Linked DNA regions of Homo sapiens. The protein of the gene in region 1 interacts with the protein of each later gene in a biochemical or structural test. Each region holds a gene or a part of one and is shown in the gene's direction. Other genes may lie near its edges. The genes, in order: ATRNL1, FRMPD2, DLG5, FRMPD3, DLG1, ERBIN and SNTG1.

Region 1 (3,500 bases):
TAGTAGAAAAGAATTCTTCTTGGTAAAGTACATGCAAATAAACCTATGAAAGGTTTATTTGAAGATAGTAGCTTGTTTTACCTGGCATTTGAAGTAATAACACAGTGGGAAAGGCTTTAACTAGAAAATCTCACTTCACTAACTATCTTGAAAATCTTTTTCTAAACTGAAGGATAGCAACCTTACAAACAGACATTAAAAATGATTGATCAATCTTGGTAAGCAGGTGTCAAAATTAATTGGTTGGCTCCATGGTAACTTAGCTTTTTTTCTACTATAGGGATTTCGCCAGGGAATAAAAATGTTCTTCAAATGTTTCTTGAGGATAGAAGATTGATAGTTGGGGGAAGAAATGCAGAAGCAAATATAGTATCAAAAGTGGTACTTCAGTTCTCTTAGCATTGATTCCAGTCTTCTGTTTCCATTTGAAAAGAATAAAGCACTCAGAATAACAAGCCATTCCTTCCTTACACAGGTAAAACAAAAGGAACATTGATTTTTCACCCAAAGCTAGACTAAAGGACTTGGGATTGAGAATAGGAAAATATATTTGAAATATAATAATCAAAGATACAGACTCTAATTCAAGTTGTATTTATTTGAATAGTTCAGTGTAATGTTAAGCAAGAAAATATTCTGCTATAATCTATTTGAATGACGTTCTCTTTTAGAAGGGAGCCCTTGAGAATTAATTTTGTAGAGTAGAGATTTATATAAATTTATATAAATATAAAGAGTATTGCTCTTTATATTAGTCAAATATAAAGGGGTATATTTTTACCCCTCTTAGGTTAGTCAAATTTGGATACTTCATTTCACGCATTTAAAATGGAAGTATGCTGGGTGCCGTGGCTCAGGCCTGTAATCCCAGCACTTTGGGAGGCCGAGGTGGAAGGATCCCTTGAGCCCAGAAGTTTGAGACCAGTCTGGGCAAGATAGTGAGACCTCATCTCTACAAAAAATATTTTAAAAGTAGCTGGGCATGGTGGCACACACCTGTGGTCACAGCTACAAGAGAGAGTGAGGCGGAAGAATTCCTTGAGCTCAGGAGGTTGAGGCTGCAGTGAGCTGTAATCACGCCACTGCGCTCCAGCTTGGGTATCAGAGCGAGACTCTTCTTAAAAATTTATATATACATATATGAAGCATTCTATTTGTAGTGACAGCAAAATGAAGATGTAATGATATAATGTCAGGAATTAGGTTGTTATTATAGACAAAAACGGGCAGAATAAAGTGTGTAAACTCTTCCCCTAAGCTGTTAAAAATATATGCATATTGCCTGGCTTGGTGTCTCACGCCTGTAATCCCAACTCTTTGGGAGACCGAGGCGGGCGGATCATGAGGTCAGGAGATCGAGACCATCCTAGCTAACACAGTGAAACCCCGTCTCTACTAAAAATACAAAAATTAGCTGGGTGTGATGGCACGCACCTGTAGTCCCAGTTACTCAGGAGGCTGAGGCAGGAGAATCGCTTGAACCCAGGAGGCGGAGGTTGCAGTGAGCATAGGTCGCGCAACTGCACTCCAGCCTGGGCAACAGAGCGAGACTCCGTCTCAAAACAAAACAAAAATAAACAACAACAACAAAAAACAAATATATATATATGCATATGTAAATACATATATATTTGGAATCCTTTTTACTTGTAAGGAAACTGACAGTAATTATAAACTTAAACTGAATGTTCCCTGTCCCTAAGACTTCTTTATTTCAAAGTTTTATTTTAATGGATAATTTATATCCATGGATTATTTTTACATTATTAAAGTGTATAATCACACAGTAGGAATTTAAAATAATTTAAATTGAGTGTTTCTTAGATTCTAAATTGATAAGGTAAGTTACTTGTAGAAGCATAGTAGCATGGTTTTCAAGAACACGTGTCTGCATGATTTGGCCCCTTTAGCTGATTAGACTCAGGCCTCCTTTCCTCTGCCCTGACTGGCCTTTTGAAGTTCCTTGAAAGTGTCACATTCCTTTTGGCCTTAGTGCATTTTATACACGTAACTGTGAACTCTTTCCTCTCTGGTCTTTGCTTGGGTGATTACTGATCATCCTTCTAATCTTAGCTTAAATACTAGTTTCTTTTTTTTTTTTTTTTTTTTTTTTTTGAGACCGAGTCTGGCTCTGTCACCCAGGCTGGAGTGCAGTGGCGCAATCTCGGCTCACTGCAAGCTCCGCTTCCTGGGTTCACGCCATTCTCCTGCTTCAGCCTCCCGAGTAGCTGGGACTACAGGCGCCCGCCACTACGCCCGGCTAATTTTTTGTTTAGTAGAGACGGGGTATCACCGTGTTAGCCAGGATGGTCTCGATCTCCTGACCTCGTGATCCACCCGCCTCGGCCTCCTAAAGTGCTGGGATTACAGGCGTGAGCCACTGCGCCTGGCCACTTAAATACTAGTTTCTAAAGGAGGCTTGTCTGACTCTTCACACTAGGTTACCCCTTATATACTGCCCTAATAGCACTATTTTTCCTTCTTAGTATTGTCAAAAATGAGGTGTTTAATTATAATTTTGATAGTTATTTAAACAAAATTTTTAAGAGATTGAGGTATAATTGTCAAACAGCACAATTTAAAATGTACAATTTATTTAAATTATACAATTTGATAAGTTTTGTCATATGTATTTGCATCTGAAACTGTCACCACAATCAAAATCATAAAAATACCAATCACGCTAGAAAGTTTCCATGTGTTTCCTTTGTAAACCCTCCCTTTTCTAGTTGCCAATTCCTGTCCCAGGGCAACTATTGATCTGCTTTCTCTCACTATAGATTTGTTGGTATTTTCTAGAACTTTTTGTAAATAGAATCATACATTATATACTTCTTTTTTGTCTGGCTTCTTTCACACAGCGTGTTTATTTTGAGATTCATTCATGGTGTGTTAGTAGTTTATTCTACTGCCGAATAGTGTTCCAGTGTCTGGATACACCATAATTTGTTTATCCATTCAACTGCTGATGGACATTTGGATTGTTTCAAATTTTTGGCTGTTCCTTATAAAGCTGCTACGAAGTTTCATGTGGAAGCCTTTTTATCTTTGTATGGTCATATGCTTTCCTTTCTCTTGGGGAAATAACCTGAGAATGGCTGGATCATATGGGTAGATATATGTGTAACTGTTAAAGAAACCGACAAACTGTTTTCCAAAGTAGTTGTATCATTTATGTTCCCACCAGCAGTGAGTCAGTGTTCTATCTAGTTAATTTCACATCCATACCAATACTTGGTATGGTTAGTCTTTTAAATTTTTGTGATTCTAATAAGTGAATGGTATATTATTGGGTTTTAGTTTGCATTTCCCGAATTACTAATGATATTGAGTATCTTCTCATGTGCTTACTTGCCATCCGTATATCTTCTGTAATAGGCATTTATTCAAACCTTTTGCATGTTAAAAAAATTTTCTTACTGATTTTTGTGAGTTCTTTACATTTTCTGGATTACTAGCTTCTTATGAGGTATATCATTTGCATATATTTTCTACCAGTC
Region 2 (3,500 bases), about 67 Mb from region 1:
ACCTGTGTTCCCAGGAAAGTCTTATTTGGGGACACAACACAGTTATTTATATCAAATGAAAACTTTAAAAATGAGTTCTAACTGTCCAAGTTGAGAAAATCCAAATTGAAACAAACAACAAGAAAAGAAAAACTTGATTTTTTTTTCAGTTATTGTTCTGGGTGTGTTAAAAGAGTGGTTTTTGGAATAATCTTCAAATCTACTGTTCTCTACTTTTCAACTAAATCTGAGCTTTTTTTAAAAAAATTAATGTTATTGTTTGTTGTCTCTAAAACAAAGTGCACTTTGCCATTAGGCTTTATCTTCCCTTGTAACCCTCCCTCCAACCCTCTGTAACTGTCATTTCTGTTTTCTACATGAGGAAACAGATTCAGAGAGGCTAAGGAATTTCACCAAGGTCACACAGCTAGTAAGTCATGATGCCATTCATGCTCTGAGATGCCTGATTTAAGAAAGCCGTGATCTTGGCTTCTGCCCATACCCTCTACCATGCTGCTTGATTAGTTTCAGAAAGAAGCACGGAGACCCAGAGCTCACCAGAGCCCCATTGGAGCACCTTGACACACAGTCACTGCAGCCTCCTTGTTAACCGGTAAGCAGCAAGGCCTAAAGGGTGCTGTGAACTTGATGTGAGACATAGGTGTGGGGGCTATGGTACCTTATTTCTTTACTGATTATTAGTAAGAAGCCTCTTGCTCCTCCAGAAAATGCCAATGCTATTCCATTAACAGATGAAGAAGCCACATTTAAGCAGATCCGAAGCCAAGATAATGAGGGGCCTGGTGGCAGCTGTGCTGTCAGGGCATCCTGTTTCCTCTGGGAACCATACTCAGGCCGAGTGGCGGAGCAACAACATGCCTCAATATTGTTGCCATTATCCATTGCCATACCATGCTGCATAACAAGCAACCACAAAACACAGTGGCTAAAAGCAACAATTATGAATTTAGCTCATGATTCTGTGAGTTGGTCATTTAGGCTGTGCTCAGCTGGGAGGTCTTCTAGACTCTGCTGAAAGCCTTCCTGCCTTTTTGACTGTCTTCGGCTCGGCTATCCAGCTTCTCCTGCGGGGTGAATGGCCATTGTCTGGGAAGCTCTGGCTCTCCTCCACCAGCAGGTCAGCCTAGGATTGTTCTCGTGACAATGGCAGAACTGACAGAGAGGAACTGAGAGAGAGAGAGAGAGACAGAGAGACAGAGAGAAAGAGGAGAGAGAGGAGAGAGGACGGCAAGGTGCATAAAGCCTTCAGAACTGGTCTTCCATCATTTCCACTTCATTCTGTTGGCCATATCAGGCCTAAAGGCCAGCCCCATTTCAAGGAGTAAGAAATAGACTCCATCTCTTGATGGCAGGAGGCTGCAAAGTCGGATTGCAAAGGGTGCAGATCAGGGAGAAGAACTGTGGACATTTTTGCAATTGTCTAACTTAGGATGCTTGAATCAGATCAAAACCTAGATGGGCTCATATCTTCCTGGACCTGGAACGGTGTTTATTTTGAAGTTTGGGTGATTTATTTATTCACATGGTGACCTGTTGAGGGCTGTAACAGTGTCTTGTCATAGTTGATGTCAAATCCACAGCTGACGCCCTGATTGGATATCGTAGAGTTTATCTTGCAATACTTTTTCCTGCCATTTAAAACTTTATTTTCCCAATGAAAACAATTTTTACCCCCTGATTCCTTAAACAATATATTTTATTGTCAAAATATTTTGAACAACATATCAAATTCTAAAGAAGCCAGAACTGCTGCAGTCCCATGACCTGCTGGGTGGTTGCTCTAGACCTGGGGTCCTGGCACCACAAACAGAGAGGTAAAGCCATGGGGTGGAGAAGTCGACTGTGCCTTGTACCTCCAACCCCACCCCACCCCAGTGGCTGTGCAGCCTGGCTTCTCCAGGCCTCAGCTTCCCCCACTTGAAAAATGGATATAACTCCCCCATAGGTGGGGGAGAAGGTGACATGCATCAGTGGGTGCACCCTGCCCAACTGAGCCCCTGTGCGGGTGGTCTTTCATGCCATGGAAGCCCTTGCCATTGCTAAGTGCTTCACCCCTTCTCAACCCCTGGCCAGCGCTCTTCCAGGAGCAGATCCCCAGGACCAGCAGGCGGGCCGGAGGCTCAGCTCTGGATCTGTGCACTCGGCAGCAGACAGCTCATGGCCAACAACTCCTTCTCAGAGGGGTTTTCTGCAAAGAAGGAGCAAGGTAAGCAAAATAAGGCTGAAGGACACTCCTCAAGGAGGCTTGAGCAGGGAGCTGTGGGTGGCTGGCACGGTGGCTGAAAATGGGCAGGGTCTTCTAGGGGACAACTTCCCTGGGCTGAGGTTTATAGGATTGGACTAACATAAACCTGAAATTTGCAACTTAGGGCATAGGCATTCACTGAGTAGCCTCACTGGGGAAGGCTCTATGGGGGACGCTGTATAAGATGTAGGGTTAAAGATGCTGGGTCCCACCCTAGAGGAAGCCACCGGTGCGCAGGGTGGTGGCAGAGCGTGCTACATGATTCGAGAACTGACAAGGCAGAATGTGTTTGGAAGGGGCCTTCTGCACAGGTGAAAGGTGGGAGCATAGATCCAGGGCCGCAGGGAGGGCTTCTATAGGGAGGAGAGAGTTATCCTTCCAGCTGGCTAACCCTAAGAGGGTAATAGGGTTAGGCGGAATGTGCCTGTCTGTCTGTCAAAGTTAGTTAAGGTCCCTTGACTGAGCTGAGCTCCAAATAGCCTCAGGATGTCCCTCTTCCTGTTTGGCCTATGGTTCCCATACGCTGGCCTGGCCCGCACTGTCCTCCTTGGCCCTTCTCTGGCCTCCATGAACTTGGTGGAGGGCGTGAAGAGGGCTTCTGAGAGGCTTTGTCCACCTCCTTTGGCTTTTCTTCCTGATCACTCACTAGAGATACTTCTATTGGGAACTCTTGCAGGACACAAGTCACTTCTGGGCTGGAATTTTGGCCTCTTGGGACAAGAGTCCTGCTAGGTACCCTTGGGGGCACTATAGAAGCCCTACCCAACCCTATCTCTTGCTGGTTATATGACTCAGGTGAGCTTCTTAAGCTTTTTTTTTTTTTTTTAAAGGTGAGGAGCCTCAACTTCCTCACCTGTAAAATGGGTTGAGAATATGCACCCCACAGGGGGATAGCTGGGTCTAGCTAGTGATGGGTATTGCAGTGTTTTCTGGGTCAAGTGTAATACAAACACACTGAGAACAAGAGGTGCCCACTAAGCTATTGATTCAACATCTAGAGCTAGAAAACATTTCAGCTCATCTAAATCTAAAAGTATTTTTGTTTTTTCAAGTATTTTTATTGCATTTATATTTATATTATACATTTTATACTTTTGATACATACAAAAGATGGAGTTCTGTGTAAATTATGAAACTTATAATTCACCCCGAACACCCCTGTACCCAACTTAAGAGCCAGAATGTTGCTGATACCCTATACCCACCTGTAAGACTTCTGCTCCAAGATGTACCATTCAGCTGGGGCCTCAGCCCA
Region 3 (3,500 bases), about 37 Mb from region 1:
GAGAGGCTGTCTCCTCCTGAAATGGGGTGTGGAAACAGATGGCTGTGGTCCCCCTGACCAGCAGGGGCCCATGGTAGCCAGGAGTTGTGGCCCCGGGGGTGGATTCTCACTCAAAGTGTTTGGCTCCCTGTCCAGGAGCAGATGCTGTACACCTGTCTGTATCTGCCCCTGAGCTGTGGGTTGAAGGGCAGAAAAGAAGGGGAGGCATGCCCTGCAGTGCTGCGCCACAAGCTCAGCAGGAGAGATGGGATGCACAGGCAGAGGAAAAGAGACAGGATGCTCACAGCTTCCTGAGGTCAGATGCCTTTGGAGAGGGCCCCTGAGCTGAGGACAGGTGGAGGGGAGAGGACAGGTGGATGTCATGGGTCCAGGCTTCTAATGTGTCTGCTCTGCTCAGGGCACAGGGTGCAGGGCTATGTGACCTGGTCCCCATTTATAGCTCAGATCTAGTTGCCACAGGAGTGGGGGTGGCTCTGGGTGGCTTCGTACTGCTCCTTATCCCTCCTGTCCTCCGCCTCCAGCTCACACCTGGACCCTGCCGGTACCCACTCCACTCTCCAGGGCAGTGGCACCACCACCCCGGAGCATCCATCTGTCATCGACCCACTGATGGAGCAGGACGAGGGGCCTAGCACCCCCCCAGCCAAGCAGAGCAGCTCCAGGTCAGCAGACGTTGCTGTGAGCCTTCCCTGTGTCCGCTTCGGCTGGGTGGGGCTGAGCACATTCTCCAAGTGGCGTGGGCACTGGGCAGCTGGCCTCATGTGCTGCAGGCCGCACACCAGGTCTTCAGGAGTTGGGCCGGGAGCACGGCATTCCTTTTTTCCTTCCCTACTCTCTCTTTTCCTTTCTCTTTTTCTCCTGTTTTCTATTGACTTGTTTTTTCCCCTGCATCTTCTCTTTCTCTTCTCCTTTTCTTGTTCACTCGCTTTCTGAGTCTGTCTTTGGACACATTCCCACAGTCATCACCCGGCCAGGCCCTGGGCTCTGGCCACCCACAGCAGTGCTTCCCCCAATGAGGTGGCAGACCAGTGCCGGGCACGTGCAGCAGAGTCAGGGTGCTGGGAGGGCACTGCCGGCCGCCGCAGAGCAGGCAGGAAGATCACTGGAGTGTGGCAGGGGAGGTGGCAGCTGGATTAAAATGTTCAGGACAGGCAAGAGCCAAGAGTGGGCATAAAGAGAAGTCCAGGCCGAGGGAGCAGCAGAGTTCAGGAGGAGGAAGGAGCTCCATGGGAGCTGCACAGCGTCCAGCCTGGCCTGGGGCTGCAGGGAGGGCCATCCAGGCCATGGTGTGACATGATCACTCTGCCGTCCTGGAGGAGCTGTGTCTCCAGCACTGAGAGGCCTTCACCAAGCCCTGGGCAGCATCTCACAGAATGAGGCCAGCTCTGCATTCTCTATACCAGAGTCTGTCACATTGGAACTTACCTGCTGCAAGGTTTTCCTCCCGGGCTGGCATCTCCCCTGAAGCCCCCTGTATCTGTTTCCATCGCTGTCCCATCTCACTCCCTCCATGTGTTCAGCAGCTTACTTTCAGCTTCCCTTCCTTGATTGTAAGTGCCTTGATGGCAAGGGGCCCCTCTTCACAAGTTAGCAGTTGCTGGTCTATAGAAGCTTCTTCGTAGACATTTGCTGAATACATTGCTGTGCTCTGGACAGTGAGGCCAACTTTACCTTTCCTTAGGAAGTACTAAGTTAGGAAAATGAGTGTGATCCACATGGGAGGGAGGCCATCCTGATCTTTAAGGCATGAGATTGATAGCCGGGCCTGGGAGCAGGGGCACTGATTTACGGTTTTGACTGCCCCCGCTAACTGGCTTTGGACCTGGGGTCTTGCCTTCATCTCCAGTGCACCTTAGCATCCTGTCCCGAACGCCGAGCCAGTAGAACTAGAGGCCACCTCTCAGCTCCCTGTGGTTCTGAGACCCCAAGAAGCAGGCAGAAAGCGGTTAGGGCATTGGCCACTGCTTTGTCTTTTTGTGCCTCCTCTTTGTGCACAGTTGAGGAACTTTGTTTTTTTCCTGAAAGGATTGCGGGAGATGCCAACAAGAAGACCCTGGAGCCACGCGTTGTCTTCATCAAAAAGTCCCAGCTGGAGCTTGGGGTGCACTTGTGTGGTGGGAACCTGCATGGGGTGTTTGTGGCCGAGGTGGAGGATGACAGTCCTGCCAAGGGTCCTGACGGCCTCGTGCCAGGGGACCTCATCCTGGAGGTGAGTTCTGAGCTGCTGAGCAGGCCAGGCCTCCATCTACCTGCACAGTGGGCTTGCTGCCATCTCAGGTGGCACCAAAGACGGAGGAGTACAGCCTCTCATCTGGTGAGCCAGTCAGGGCTGACTTTTGTTGTTGTTGTTGAGGCAGAGTCTTGCTCTGTCGCCCAGGCTGGAGTGCACTGGCACAATCTCAGCTCACTGCAACCTTCACTTCCCAGGTTCAAGCGATTCTCCTGCCTCAGCCTTCCGAGTAGCTGGGACTACAGGCATGTGCCACGATACCCGGCTAATTTTTATATTTTCAGTAGAGACCAGTTTCACCATGTTGCCCAGGCTGGTCTCAAACTCCTGACCTCAAGTGATCTGCCCGCCTCGGCCTTCCAAACTGCTGTGATTATAGGCATGAGCTACCGTGTCCAGCCTCAGGATTGATTTTTTTTTTTTTTTGAGACAGAGTTTTGCCCTTGTTGCCCAGGCTGGAGTGCAGTGGTGCAATCTCAACTCACCACAACCTCCGCCTCCCAGGTTCAAGCGATTCTCCTGCCTCAGCCTCCTGAGTAGCTGAGATTACAGGCATGCGCCAACACGCCCAGCTAATTTATTTTTGTATTTTTTGTAGAGACGGGGTTTCATCATGTTGGCCAGGCTGGTCTCAAACTCCTGACCTCAGGTGATCCACCCGCCTCGGCCTCCCAAAGTACAGGGATTACAGGCGTGAGCCACTGTGCCTGGCCAGGGTTGATTTTTAATCCCTGTAAACCCAGAATCCTGCCAAGCCCTTCTGAGGAGGTCCCTGTGAAGCCAGGCAGGCCATTGAGGGAACCTGAGGGCAGAGCCTTGGCTCAGGCCCTGGGCATCAGGGGGTGCTCGCCCTCAGGTGATGTAGCTGCAGGACTCTGTTCTGATGAGAGAGGATGGTCTTTCTCTGTGGTCTCCTGCCTCATGGGGGAGATGGTTTGTGAGAATATAAAGGCACAAGTTGGGCTGGGTTTGGTGGCTCACACCTGTGAATTTTAGGAGGCCAAGGTGGGAGAATTAGTTGAGCCCAAGAGTTCAAGACCGGCCTGGGCAACATAGTGAGACCCTGTCTTTACAGAAAACAAAACAAAAAAATTAGCCAGGTGTGGTGGAGTGTGCCTGTTGTCCCAGCTATTCTGGAGGCTGAGGTGGGAGGATCACTTGAGCCTAAGAGGTATAGGCTACTGTGAGCTGTGATTGCACCACTGCACTCAGTCTGTGTGACAGAGGGAGACCCTGTTTCAGAAAATAAATAAATAAAAGCACAGGCAAC
Region 4 (3,500 bases), on another chromosome or scaffold:
CTGAGCATGTATCATGTGGAAAGCACTGGACCCTAGGGAGGCACATGTTTTCCATGGAAATGACTAGGCTGGTGTGGTGGCTCATGCCTGTAATCCCAGCGCTTTGGGAGGCCAAAGCAGGAAGATCACTTGAGCCCAGGAGTTTGAGACCAGTCTGGGCAACATAGTGAGACAGCGTCTTTACTTTTAAAAAAATAATTTAAAAAAAATGTAAAAAAAGGAAATGTACCTCTGTACCTCTAATTCATCAGTCCTAGGGTGTGGAATTCTGGGAGACAAAACCCCAGCCCAGGGGAAAGTGGGAGAGTTGGGGGCACAAGACCTGACCTGGAGAATGGGTCACTGGGTGGAATGGTGAGGGATCAGGTTACTGCCTCCACTTTCTAGTGCTCTGAGGGACTCCCACTGTCTGCTTTCCCAAGCCCCGCAGCAGCTTCTTAGCTTTGTAAGATTCAATCTGCCTGTGCTTCCTGCCCTAGAAGCAGGAGAGTGGTGAGACGCACTAGAATCAGCATGCAGATGTACATATGGGACGCAATCGCCCCATACATTCCTCCCATTCCAGATTTCTTGCATTACCAACTAGCTTCTCTTTTAAGATGCAAATTTCCCCGGAGAGTTAAGCCATTCCCACCTTGCTGTGAATATTTAATCAGATTGTTTTCTTCTCAACTGAGAGCATCAGTGCTCACCACCATCTCCTCAGGTAACATTTTTTTCGAGGCACCCCAGTGCTTGGGTTGGAAATATGAAGATGAAGAGGGCCTGGTCTTGGCCCCTGAGTCAGGCACAGTCTAATGGGGAAACACATTAGTCAGTCCCAACACAGTGCATTAGGCACAGGTGCTCTGGAAGCACAGAGGAAGAACACTAAGCCCAGCCTGAGGGAGGTGGAAAAGGCCAGAGCTGGGTCTTGAAAGACAGATAAGAGTTTGTCTAGATTAATCCGTGGGCATGGGTCATGGGAGGAAGTGTTTCCCAGGCAGAGAGATCCATCTGTACAAAGGCCCAGAGATATGAGAAACCATGGTGCAAGGACAGAAATGCAAATCATTCAGCCTAAGCAAGTACAGAAAATGCAAGCTGTGTGCAAGGGGTGAAGATAGGGGCAAGAGAAGAGGCCAGAGAGGTTGGCAGGAGCCAGTTCATGGAGGGCCTTGTGTGCCAAGGAAAGAGGTTGTACTTCATCCTCTAGGCAGCTGGGAGCCATTGAAGGGTTTAAAGCAGGGAGCTGATGTGATTAAACTTATGTTTTAGGATGCTCCCTCTAACAGTGTGGAGGCACTTGAGGGAAAGAGGGAAACAAGTGTCAGTCCTGAAGGTAACCTGGCTGTCACCCTGACACAGGTGGGAATGTCAAGGCAATGACTGGCTAGAGAAGAGGGATGGATAGATTGGAAAAGGAGCTAGGGGGTAAGTATCCAGATGATCTGGTAACTGCTGGCTCTCACATGAGGCGATTAAGGAGGAGTCCAGTGTGACTCACAGGTTTCTGGCTTGATTGCCCAGGGGATGCTGATATAGACCAGGAATGCCTGAAGTGCAGGCTTGGGACTTAGGAATGCTTAGTATGAACGGTATTGAGTGGGACCCCCAGCTGGGGAATGACCAGCATGTACATGACTCTAGGGGTCTGAAACATCTCAGGAGAGAGGTATGGATTAGGTGGGGCGTCAGTTAGTTGGAATTAAACCAAAAACAAAATGAGTAAGCTGGATACTTTAGGAATGAAGATCAGGAGGTAGGACAAGATTTTAGAAAGGGAGATGAGATACTAGAGGGAAGAGCTGTCCAAACTAGAACCTTGCTGCTGTTTTAAGAAGGGCATCTTCACATCTCCACAGTGTCACTTGCTGACTGGTGCCTGTCCTAGGATGTTGAGACTCCTCGTTGAGAACATGGGTTTGCTTTTCCTGTGCCCCTCAGGCTTCTCATATTTCTGGATGGGTTTTTCCACAGGGCTCTGCAATTCAGGCAAAGCTCCAGTATCTACGAATTCTGAATGAACTTCCTACCTTCACGGGCGTTTTGTTCAACACTGTAGGCCTGGTCAGTGGCGCAGGATTGGGGGATGTGGGGAGGGAGCCCCTTGTTGGCTCTTGTCCTTGGGTGTGGGGGCAGGAGGGGCAAATATTTCTAAAGGCCTTCGTTCCTCTTCCTCCTCCTTCTACCTCTTACCTCCCTGGCCCTGCCTCTGCCAAAATGATAAAGTGGGAGGAGATATTTGTTTTGAGTATCCCTCCATGACCTTTTTTTGTTCCTCTTCCTCGATTTGGGGGCGCAGCATACTTTTTCCATAAAGGGCCAGATAGTAAATATTTTAGGTTTTGCAGGCGGGCCATACTGGCAACTGTGGCAACTACTCAGCCCTGCTGTCAGATTATGAAAGCAGCCACAGACAATGCATAAACAAATGGGTGTGGCTGTTTACCAATAATTATTTATGGATACGAAAATTTGAATTTCATGTACTTTTCACATGTCACAAAACATGCCTCTTCTGATTTTTTTTCCCTACCATTAAAAAATCTAAAAACCATTCTTAGCTCCTGGGCCATAAAAAATAGGTGGTGGGTGGTATTTGGCCCATGGGCCATGGTTAGGCAACCCCTGCTCTATTTCATTTTTGTTCCACATACTCCCACAGTCCCCTACCCTAGGTTTCCTGAGTCCTTCTACTTCTCCCCCTGCTTGCTCAGCACCTTTGCTGCAGGAACAAGGCTCTGGGGCAGGGCACAGCTGGTCCCACCCTAAGACTGTGCCCCAGGCTAGTTTACCCTGGTGAAAGGAAATTCAAATCACCTTGCTAATTGGATCCAGGTGCTTGTCTTGCTCCCAGGAGCACATTGTCAGCTAGTGCGGCACATCGGTGGAAAGCCACTTATCAAAGTGCCTATAGACAGGCACAAGAGGTTCCTCAGGGTGATGCTAATACCAGGGAATGGGCCTCCAGACGACCCAAGCTTGATTGCTCCAAGGAATCTGTCAAGACCTCTTAAGGGAATCCAGTCCTTCAGGCCGAGAGGTAGCCATTTACATACTGGGATTTGCAGAACACTGAAAGCCCACTGTCCCCTCCCACCTCCTTCATACACTGTCAAATCTTTCTTCCACCCACCTACCACTGCTAAAATTTCTATTGGCCATACCTGCTGGAGTGCCCATTAAAAGGCAAATCTCTGCTTAACGAGGGAGGCTGCCATGAAGTACCCAATCAACCCTCAACACCTTAGGCAGAGTTACTGTGCCAGTTTAGTTTTTGGCCTGGGTGAGAAGTGCAAGTTTGAGTGGCTGTTGGTGGGGGGAGGGTAAAGACCAGACACAGGATGCCGCCTTCTCAGGCAGAGCACTGGGTGGGGGCCTCAAATGGCCTGCAGCAACAAATGGAAAGCCCCTGGGGCTTGGAAGGGGAGGGTGCTCCAAAGGCCCCCAAACAAACCTCACCTACTTCACGGTTTTGCTTGAGCTAGCCCTTCTGCCTGTGCACTTTACTCAACCTG
Region 5 (3,500 bases), on another chromosome or scaffold:
CTAAAACAGAAAAGAATGTTTATGCCAATGTATGGATTTAAAAGACCTACAGCTACATACATATAATATAAACCAATTGCAAAATTCATGGTAAAATTGTTATAGGATCTTGATAATTAAAGAGAAAGTCTTCAAATACATTATCCAATATTGATTGCTTTCATTGAACCACTTGGGTTAACACAGTCTTTTCTAATTTTAGGCGTGGGGGTGAGGGGGGATGTGTGTGTGTTAGTTTAAAACTCCTAGAGTTTTTGGCCGGGCGCGGCGGCTCACGCCTGTAATCCCAGCACTTTGGGAGGCCGAGGCGGGCAGATCACCTGAGGTCAGGAGTTCGAGACCAGCCTGACCAACGTGGAGAAACCCTATCTTTACTAAAAATACAAAATTAGCTGGGCATGATGGCACATGCCTGTAATCCCAGCTACTTGGGAGGCTGAGGCAGGAGAACCGCTTGAACCCGGGAGTTGGAGGCTGCAGTGAGCTGAGATCATGCCATTGCACTCCAGACTAGGCAACAAGAGCGAAACTCCGTCTCAAAAAAAAAAAAAAAAAAAAAAACTCTCAGAGTTTTTAACTATTTATTTCTTTTCACTGGATTCAGATATTCAGATATAATTTGTAGACTCTTTTATTTAGAGTATTTCCTAAGCTCCGAACCTTTAATTTAACCTTTAGAAGCTTTAACTTCTTGTGTTTTTAAGGTCAAAGCAAATATATTTATCTCCTTTACTATCACTGTTGTTTATTTTCTTGGAAGGATTTAGTTTTATCTAAAGCTCTTTTTGACTCACATTAAATTTATTATTTTTTTACAAAGTTGAGTTAGTGAATTTTTCATCAGTGAAATAGTAACAGTAGTTTTACCTTTGCATTTATAATTTTTAATTTTAAGATGTAATTATTTTAAAAATAAAATATACTGTATTCAGTATTGTAGTTGGTGGAACAAAAAAAGTAGCATGTTTTTAATAGTAACAAATTACCTAATACGTAGATAGATGATAGACAGATCTGCTCATTAAAGCATTAATCTTTAACAGATTTAATAATTCTTAGATTCTAAATAAAGGAGTAGCACATAGCATCACAAATGAAGATTTTTAGATTTGATTATCTATAAAATATAATATTGATTATATAGCCCATTTGTATTTTGTTTTACATTTAGCAAACTCACTTTTAAGACTTTATAATTTGACACTTTTTTTTAACTAAATCTTGCCATAAAGTACCTCTTTCCATATCTTTGCCATTTTCTCAGGAAAGTTCTAGTAATGTATATGTTGTTTATGAAGAATTAGATTAGCATCAATTATCTTTACACATTTTTCATCTGTGCCTTCACTTTCTAATAGGTGGTCAAGAAGAATACGTCTTATCTTATGAACCAGTGAATCAACAAGAAGGTTTGTGAAGCCTATTGATGTTTTATAACCTTCTAGAAGAATATACTTTTTAATTTGGGGGAAAAAAATTCTCATACCCCAAAAAATGTTGTATTAAAATTTTTTTTTACTACATATACATGTAGAAATTTACTACATGTGTTTTATGAAACATAGTTTACTCCACAGAATATTAGAATCTAGTCATTTCATACTGACTTTTATATTTGTGTTTTATTTCCCAAGCAACTTTGTTCCAGTGTTCTTGTTAGCATCACTATCTTCCAAATAACCCTTTTTTGAAAATCTTGGAAGTATCTTTGAGCCTTCTCTGTTCCTCCTCCTCCTCCTCATCCAGTTAGGTTCCAGGCACTGTTTATCCCACTTCTTTCTTATTTATGACCTTCTTTTCATCCCTTCTATCACAATGTTAGTTCTCAGTCTCACTACCAATCTCCATTATTCCAGCATGATCCCAGACCACCCAGAGTTTACACTTCTGTTAGATCATCTTTCTAGAATGCTACTACTGGGATTATATCACTTCCTACATCCAGTTTCTGTTCTGCCCTTCTTTGCTCTGCTTCCTTACAATTTCTACTTCAAAGCCATCTGTAAAACACTAGACTTTATTCTGTCATTTGCAATGTAAAGAAACATTATCTGCGAAAACACCAAATTTAACTTGATTGAATTATCAATATGACTTCTAGCAGAAGACTAAGTAAAGTTTAAGATCTGAGTCAAGATTATAAAAGAGCAAGTTACGCATCTTTGGTTGATGGTAGAGTGAGATGGAGAGGGAAGAAAAAAATTAGTCATAACAGTTAAGGATATTTTTGTTCGCTGGTGAAATAAAATACATTGATATTTGTTGAATGTTTATTCCTTTTAACATGCAGTTTATCTTTATAGTTAATTATACTCGACCAGTGATCATATTGGGACCTATGAAAGACAGGATAAATGATGACTTGATCTCAGAATTTCCTGACAAATTTGGATCCTGTGTTCCTCGTAAGTAAACCAAACAAAAACATTTAATTGTTACTCTTAACATTTCCTGTCACTGTGTGTGGGAAAAATAGATATAACCATTTTTTAATGGTTTGTACTTATTTTATCAGTTACTCTTCCATCCTCCATATTATTGTCCTTTCTCAGATTTAAATTAATCTGTTCTGTTGAACTTTACAAAACGATGTAAGTAGAAAATGGATTTATTGTGGTTTTTTTTTTAATATTAAACACTTTCCCAAGTTTTTTTCTGTTAAAGATACAACTAGACCAAAACGAGATTATGAGGTAGATGGAAGAGATTATCATTTTGTGACTTCAAGAGAGCAGATGGAAAAAGATATCCAGGAACATAAATTCATTGAAGCTGGCCAGTATAACAATCATCTATATGGAACAAGTGTTCAGTCTGTACGAGAAGTAGCAGAAAAGGTAAGCATCAGACTAATCCCAGAATATAGCTTCTAATCAGATATGCCTTTGACAGTATGCAAGACTGGTAGGATAGATACAGCACTAATTAGTTTTGTTAATGTGATGAATTTGCTTACCTAAATAATTAATTTTCCATGGCTTAGGAAAGTGCATACAAGATAAAACAGGTAAATAAGGTAAACAAAGAAAGTGAAAATAGAAATGATAACATGAATGTAAGAGAAGTTATTTTCAGGTCATTTGCTAGAGATAGACCTTTTGTTTAGGCCTAGCTCTCCAGCATATATTAAAAGGAGATAAGGGCCGGGTGTGGCAGTGCACCCTTACAGTCCTAGCTACTGAGAAGGCTGAGTTGAGAGAATCACTGAAGCCTGGGAGTTTGAGGCTGCAGTGAGCTATGAGCATGCCACTGAACTCCAGCCTGGGCAACAGAACAAGACCCTGGCTCTTAAAAAAAGAAAAAAAAAGAAAGATCAATAAATCTAACCACTTAAAATTTTTAAAAAACTTTTTTTATGGCCAAAGACTTTTTCCAAAAACTATTGGAAAACACCATTAACAATGTCAAAAGACAACTGACAGAAAAAATTTGCAAGAAAAGGGCTAATATTCCCAATATATAAAGAACTCATAAAAACAGGGAACAGAGACCAGAAACCC
Region 6 (3,500 bases), on another chromosome or scaffold:
GAATTCCCAAAGAATATGTCCTTTGTCACTTCTGCTATGCTACAATTAGTAGAACATCTTAGCTATATTACTGAATACATTTCTAATGGCATTTAAAAAACTACCTGGGAGTCTTCTTTCTTGTATTAGCATTTAATTTTGAATTAAAACTTGGTATCAAGTTTATTCCCTAAACTTTTTACAAATTACTAATGTTAATAGAGTCATTAGATTTTCTTTTTTTACTTATAGTTTATTGGTAGTTTGAAACAGCTCACATATTTGGATGTTTCTAAAAATAATATTGAAATGGTTGAAGAAGGAATTTCAACATGTGAAAACCTTCAAGACCTCCTATTATCAAGCAATTCACTTCAGCAGCTTCCTGAGACTATTGGTTTGTATTGCTTTCAAATTCATGTAATTTTTATTAAAATAAATTCGAGACTTCCACATAATCTCAAATTTCACTTGTTATGAGGTAGTTATACTTCGTTACCACAGGAACGGATTTTATTTGAATTTTTCCTGGTGTGATCAGTTGTACAGTTTGCTCCTTTGTTGACATTACTGTTTTTTATTTACTCTAAGGTAATCTCATTTTTATTTCTAATATATTTAAATTCTTTAAAATAAGTTAACTTATGCAAATTTGGCTTAACTGTTAGCTTTTATTGTCATAGCTTTTATTTTGGTAACTTTTTTCAGTCCTGTTTCATTACAGACACTCAGACAAGAAAACAGATCAGTTGAACAGATCATGAGAGATCTATGATTGAGTCTGTGTAGTTGCTTGTTCAATGATATGTCAATGGAATTGAATTATTTTGATGAAAGGACCCAAAACTTCAATCTTGACATCTTTTTGATGTTTTAATTTAAAAACCAAAAATATTTCTCAGTTAAATCACGTAGTGGTTTTAGCTAAAACTACATTTTTGTAAGTTTGTTACGATTCTACTCTTAGTCAACACTTTTTAAACTTAAAAAATATTTTACTGTTTTAGTATTTAGTATATATGGAATAGTTTTTTATATACCTGTTATGAACTACCTTCATACTACCATTTCTTTAGTCTATTAATTTAACAAGTTTGTATTGTCTGTCTTTTCTGTGCCATGACATTGTTTTTAGAAGCAGAGCTACAACAGTGAACAACGAAGACAAAAAAGTTCCTACTATCAGTATATTTTAGTGGGAGTTAATAAACAAATGTACACTATGTTAAATAGTGATGTGGATGAAGATTGAAAGGACAGGATGAGGGAATAGAACATTGGGATTGGGAGTGGTATCTCTTTTAGATACGTTTGTTAGGAAAGTTGTTTCTAATTCTTGTCAGATGTAGTATGTCTCACACTGACTGTTGGTGGACTTGCTTCTATTTTAAGCTGAAAAATTGTATGTTGTTTCTTCCCTCATTAGGTTCGTTGAAGAATATAACAACGCTTAAAATAGATGAAAACCAGTTAATGTATCTGCCAGACTCTATAGGAGGGTAAGTTTTTTGTGAATGTATACACCCTCGAAGATTTTACTTTCAGTTCAGCATGCCATACATATTTTCAGGTATTTGCATAAATGACCTAAAGATTTTGTAAACATTTAAGTAATTAGTATACAGGTTGAGTGTGTTTATGATAGACAAACCTACTTATTGGTGAAGTTTAGCTTTGTGAAATGGTTTCACTAGGTTTTCAAAGTCAAGTTCAAATGTTTATATGTTCTGAAATTTTGGATTATATATAGGAAATCTTTAACAAATAATATATATTTCTTTTTTTAAATTAAAGGTTAATATCAGTAGAAGAACTGGATTGTAGTTTCAATGAAGTTGAAGCTTTGCCTTCATCTATTGGGCAGCTTACTAACTTAAGAACTTTTGCTGCTGATCATAATTACTTACAGCAGTTGCCCCCAGAGGTAATGTATTTTAGATTTGTTTAGATTTTTGTCTTTTCATTTTTTTCTGATTATCTTCATTATAGCTATTTAGTGTGGCTTCATTTATTTTCTTTCTAAAATAGTTTTCAAGTTATTTATTTTCTGAATAATTAGCTATGTTAATTTAGAAGAGGTTCTTAAATGCTTTCTTATGTACATAAAAATTAATTAAAAAGAAAGTCTAGTCATTATTTCTTCTATAAATGTGAAGTATTTTTCATAACTTTCAAAAATGATGTTTTTTATATGTTGATCAACCTGTAGGCCAAATTTTTTGATACTCAGTTTATATTTCTCTTTCAGATTGGAAGCTGGAAAAATATAACTGTGCTGTTTCTCCATTCCAATAAACTTGAGACACTTCCAGAGGAAATGGGTGATATGCAAAAATTAAAAGTCATTAATTTAAGTGATAATAGGTTCGTAATACTATATTCATCAGTTGGTTTATAGGAGACATTGGTTAGATGAAATTAAGTTTCATATGATATATAATAGAATAGCTAGTGCTTGTTGCTCTTTAAATATACATAGTAAGTTCTCAGTGTTATTGATAGGCTCTTGGAAAGTGTGACTTTCAGTGAAACAACATACAATGAAATCACTTCTTTCGTTCATCAGTGTTATAAGAAAATGACATTATTTGAGAACCTGCCATACACAGTTTTGCTAAAAGTTTTGGTTTCCAAGAACCTATCAATAACTTAAATGAGGACTTAACTGTATATATTTTTTTCTTTAAATACAAAGAGTGGTCTTATTTTATCTGATGTTAATTTATCATACGGTGGTTGTTACTGTTCATTTTGGGTTGACTTAGCTATATAGTCTTTATTCTCTTCTTACAGTTACCTTTTATTTCTGAAGTCACATCTTCACCTGAATATTGCTATTTAACAAAACAATTTTGGAATGTATCTAGTCTGTTGCTAATATTTTCCTAGGCAGAGATCTGGTTTCAACAAAGCCAAGGTGCAGAGTAAATTGATCACTAGGGTTGTAAATTGGAACAATGTTTAAGTTAAAAACAGAATGTCCATACTTTTTCGTGAGGTAAACATACTAATGATGATTAAACAGCATTTGTAGAGTGTTTTCACTTTTTGCTTTCATAGTGTCTTGTGAAGTCTTCAAAACAGCTCTATGAAATAGTATAATAGTATTCCCATTTTATGTAGGAGGGTTTTAAGACTCAGATTTAAGGTGACTCACGTAGCTTGTAAGGTAGAGCTTTAATTTAAACTCAATTTTCTGACTAATTATGATATTCTAACTTCTGTTTTATTTAAAAGAACCACTGCTTTCTTAAGTCACGTTTCAGCCTTTAATTCCTACGGCCCACAGTGGGTTGCTGAAAGAAAGGCACGGAAGACTAGTTAGGTATAAGATAGCAAGGCTGAAGTAGATAATTCTCTCTTAAATAAGATATTTTCATTTAGTATTCTAATGAGTATTTATAGTTGACCCTTGTATTTGTGGGTTCTGCAAGTGTGGATTCAAACAACTTCAGATCAGAAATATTTGGAAAAAAATTGTGTCAGTACTGAACGTGTACCAACTTTCCCATTGTTATTCC
Region 7 (3,500 bases), on another chromosome or scaffold:
CTGTTGCTTACATTTGAGACTCAAAAGAGAAAGGTGAGATGGGATTACATAATCTAGAAAATGTAAAGTATATATAGGACCAGAGGATAATTTAAAATGAGCCCTGGAATCCATTCAATTGCCTTCTTCCAAAATGTTATAAAAACACTTCTTGATTAATTTTTGCATAGACTATATAAATATTACTTGTATATTCTAATGTAATTATTCATACCATGAAATCGTATTGGATTTTAATGCTCACAGTTTGCCTTTGGAGTTATTTACTTGGGTTTCAATCAAGTTCAAACATTTATCAAAAAATATAAAAGTAAAAAATGACTATTGCTAATATTTAGTAATTGGCTGTTTTTGACCACTTAAAGATTTATAAATTCCAAGCAGCTAGCCTGCTTACTCACCTAGTTCTGTTAAGCAACACAAAAGCCACTAGGAAAGAAAAAAGCATATTGTAAGCTAGAAATTATTTCCATAGTAATCTCACCTTCCCAGAAATCTGTACAGTGTGTTATAGAATAGAATTCAAATGGAGAGAGATCTCTTATTTGGTGTTTTCTTCCTATTTAGCTTAGCAGAGTGAGCACATAGCATGTGTTGGAAGAGACAACATCCTGTGGTAAGAAACATGTTACACATCATGTTGTAGGGAAACAAGTACTACTTGACAGTCAAAAGATCAGAATTTTTTAACTGCTGGCCATAAGATCTTCTACAAGTCACTCAATCCACTGCAGCTGAATTTTTCTTCCTTAAATTTGGGGATTCTTTACTTTTCAATGAAGACACAATAATTTACATACAGCTGATACCTGAACACTCATGAGATAAGTGAATGATGCCTACTTTGTGGGATACTGGAAAGTCGAAATTCAATGATTTTGAGAGTGTTTTGGAAACAAGTGTTATATCTGTGAGTTATTATAAATAATTTCCAATAGCATTCATTCATTCGTCAAAAAAAATCCCACTAATTACTAAATAACAGGCACATCCCTTATACTTAACAACTCTCAGCATAGGGAATATAATACTTCCCTGATACTTCAGCAGTCATTTCCTTTACATCTCTTAATGGTATAAATATAAGTGATATTCAATGAAGGTGGACTTGGTTTCAAAAATATTTTATTACTCAGAACTGACACCACATTCTATATCAATTGGACAAACTTAGTTGACCTGAGTCTATTTCAACAACTTTCATTTTGACCTTCAAAGAATCTATCATGTCGTGTCATAATTTTCTAGTTTATAAAGGAGGATTAATGTTTGTCATTAGTGATATTGATAAGGAAACTCATACGATGAAATACACTTCAAAACTCCATATCCTAAAACATACAGAAAGCATTGTGATTTGACTGCTGGCTTGTGAGCATGGAGTGAAATGTGGACAACATGCGGGCTGATCTAAGGGGCTAGCCTGGAAATGCTGTTAAGATGTTGTTTTGATTTAGTCGAAAGCCTAGATTTTATTCATAGGCCTCTTTAGGACATCTCTTTAGAAAATCGAATAAGCAGTATTTCATTGCTTATTTGCTTTTCTTAGTCGGGTTTTAAACGTCACTATGATTTTTTCAATGTAATTTATCAACATTTGGTCTGTATAGATTTCTAGACTATCACTAAAAATATACTGACAGTATTCTTAGGAAATATAAGTCAATGTTTGGTGTTACAGTTATTTCCAGCATTGTTTTGTGGTTAAATTATATAATTGCACCAGCGATAAAAAATTATATCATCACTTACTTAGTAATATAATTCAGATTTTTTTTTGTCAAATACACACACACACACACAAAAACCCAGAAACAGTCAAAAACATAAAATGAAAAAGAACTGAGAGTAAGAGGTCATTAAAATAATGTCTTGAGGCCAGAGAATTTATCTTTGAATTATCCTTAAATTTTCACCGTGAAGTTTCTTCAGCACATTCTACACACTGAAAGAGTCAGAAAATCATTTTGGGTCTCCTGAATTTGGTCTTCAATTTGTCAGCAAAGATAAAGTGATCATGTTATATTTTTTTTCAAAAAGAGTGTCATTAAATCAATTCATTTGAATACTTGCTTATTATCACTTCATCATATGTAATGTACATACTTGAAGATATTTTTAAAATTAAAAATTGTGAAGTAATTATATGCTCTATGTTTAACAAATTTACTCACAATTTCGGTCTAAGATTTAGTTTTTTAAAAGAATAAGTGCTTGCCTGGTAAATTCACTAAATAAGCTAATAGAAAATAGAAATCTTTTAGAAATGGTGCCAAAATTTGAACAATAATGTGTTACTTATATAAAACTATGAAAAGGCCAAGTACAGTGGCTCATGCCTATAATCCCAACACTTTGGGATACCGAGGCAAGAGGATCACTTGAAGCCAGGAGTTCAAGACCAGCCTGGGCACCACAGTGAGACCTCGTTTCTTCAATAGAAAAAAAAAACATAAAAAATAAAAAAATAATATCTGGGTGTGGTGAATGTGCCTGTAGTCTCAGCTACTCAGGAGGCTGAGGTAGGAGGATCACTTGAGCCCAGCAGTTTGAGGCTGCAGTGAGATATAATCACATCACTGCACTCCAGCCTGAATGAGATTCTATCTCAAAAAAATATATATATTAAAAATAATAAATTTTATTTGAATCTTTTCAAGGGGTGAGAAATAAGTATGTGAGATTAAGAAATTTAGATCATAGATGAGAAAAGAGTATTTTATGGTTAAAAATGCATCCAGTACACACAAAATCTGAGGTTCAACATGGTTTGTCATCAATTGGTTGTGTGGACTTGGGTAAATCACTTTATCTTAATTTAACTGCTCAGCTATATCCTTGGTCCTATTGGTAAATCATTATTATGTCCATGAGAAAATAAACAATGTCTATGTTTAGTTGAACTCATAAACTTTCCTTCCACATCTGTCATGCCATTCTTCTTGAAAATGTTTCCGTGCTCTCATGGTGGAACATACATGGGATTTAGAATCAGACTTAAGTTCGAATCCTGTTATAGAAATGGCATTAATGACAAAAACTTGGGCAAGGAATGTGAAGTCTCTAAGTCTGATGTCCACTGCAGTGTGTTGCTGGGAACAGTTAATGAGCAAATTGTATACAATGGCTAGTACATTGACCGGGATTTGTTGAAGCTGGTGAGTGTTATGACTTAGCCTGTTAGACTAGTCTATGCACATGGCTCTGATCAACTACCGCTCTCTCATTTCTCCAGATAAATCCCCCATGCTTTATATTCTCTTCCAAACATACTATCCTCATCACCACATAGTTCTTTTGTTAATGCTTTGTTCTAGACTTTCCCTTTTCTGTTTTCTTATTCAAACCTATATCTCTTTGCATAGATTGTAAATTCAAATGCCCTCAGGGTGCAGGCAGTTCATGTAAGGAGGGAGGCTAGCCAGTGAGATCTGCATCACACTGCAGAAAGTGAGCCCGTCAAGAGTCCTCGACTCAGCTCTGCTCAGTTAGAACAAAAC

The links.
Region 2: the proteins of ATRNL1 (region 1) and FRMPD2 interact in a test that uses a peptide from one of them, tested with the Homo sapiens proteins (one large-scale study listed by IntAct).
Region 3: the proteins of ATRNL1 (region 1) and DLG5 interact in a test that uses a peptide from one of them, tested with the Homo sapiens proteins (one large-scale study listed by IntAct).
Region 4: the proteins of ATRNL1 (region 1) and FRMPD3 interact in a test that uses a peptide from one of them, tested with the Homo sapiens proteins (one large-scale study listed by IntAct).
Region 5: the proteins of ATRNL1 (region 1) and DLG1 interact in a test that uses a peptide from one of them, tested with the Homo sapiens proteins (one large-scale study listed by IntAct).
Region 6: the proteins of ATRNL1 (region 1) and ERBIN interact in a test that uses a peptide from one of them, tested with the Homo sapiens proteins (one large-scale study listed by IntAct).
Region 7: the proteins of ATRNL1 (region 1) and SNTG1 interact in a test that uses a peptide from one of them, tested with the Homo sapiens proteins (one large-scale study listed by IntAct).

Annotation. Positions count from the first base shown.
Region 1 is NC_000010.11:115,096,365-115,099,864, forward strand, and holds part of ATRNL1 (attractin-like protein 1 isoform 1 precursor), read left to right. Parts: intron 1-280; exon of another isoform or gene 281-475; intron 476-3,500. UniProt on the Homo sapiens protein: May play a role in melanocortin signaling pathways that regulate energy homeostasis.
Region 2 is NC_000010.11:48,236,697-48,240,196, reverse strand, and holds part of FRMPD2 (FERM and PDZ domain-containing protein 2), read left to right. Parts: intron 1-504; coding exon 505-592; intron 593-2,073; coding exon 2,074-2,206; intron 2,207-3,500.
Region 3 is NC_000010.11:77,808,256-77,811,755, reverse strand, and holds part of DLG5 (disks large homolog 5), read left to right. Parts: intron 1-135; coding exon of another isoform or gene 136-172; exon of another isoform or gene 173-287; intron 288-521; coding exon 522-662; intron 663-2,025; coding exon 2,026-2,209; intron 2,210-3,500. UniProt on the Homo sapiens protein: Acts as a regulator of the Hippo signaling pathway.
Region 4 is NC_000023.11:107,561,152-107,564,651, forward strand, and holds part of FRMPD3 (FERM and PDZ domain-containing protein 3), read left to right. Parts: intron 1-1,959; coding exon 1,960-2,049; intron 2,050-3,500.
Region 5 is NC_000003.12:197,064,613-197,068,112, reverse strand, and holds part of DLG1 (disks large homolog 1), read left to right. Parts: intron 1-1,358; coding exon 1,359-1,409; intron 1,410-2,303; coding exon 2,304-2,405; intron 2,406-2,648; coding exon of another isoform or gene 2,649-2,662; exon of another isoform or gene 2,663-2,664; coding exon 2,665-2,837; intron 2,838-3,500. UniProt on the Homo sapiens protein: Essential multidomain scaffolding protein required for normal development. Recruits channels, receptors and signaling molecules to discrete plasma membrane domains in polarized cells.
Region 6 is NC_000005.10:66,024,075-66,027,574, forward strand, and holds part of ERBIN (erbin), read left to right. Parts: intron 1-231; coding exon 232-376; intron 377-1,405; coding exon 1,406-1,478; intron 1,479-1,773; coding exon 1,774-1,903; intron 1,904-2,227; coding exon 2,228-2,343; intron 2,344-3,500. UniProt on the Homo sapiens protein: Acts as an adapter for the receptor ERBB2, in epithelia. By binding the unphosphorylated 'Tyr-1248' of receptor ERBB2, it may contribute to stabilize this unphosphorylated state.
Region 7 is NC_000008.11:49,914,407-49,917,906, forward strand, and holds part of SNTG1 (gamma-1-syntrophin), read left to right. Parts: intron 1-567; exon of another isoform or gene 568-616; intron 617-3,500. UniProt on the Homo sapiens protein: Adapter protein that binds to and probably organizes the subcellular localization of a variety of proteins. May link various receptors to the actin cytoskeleton and the dystrophin glycoprotein complex.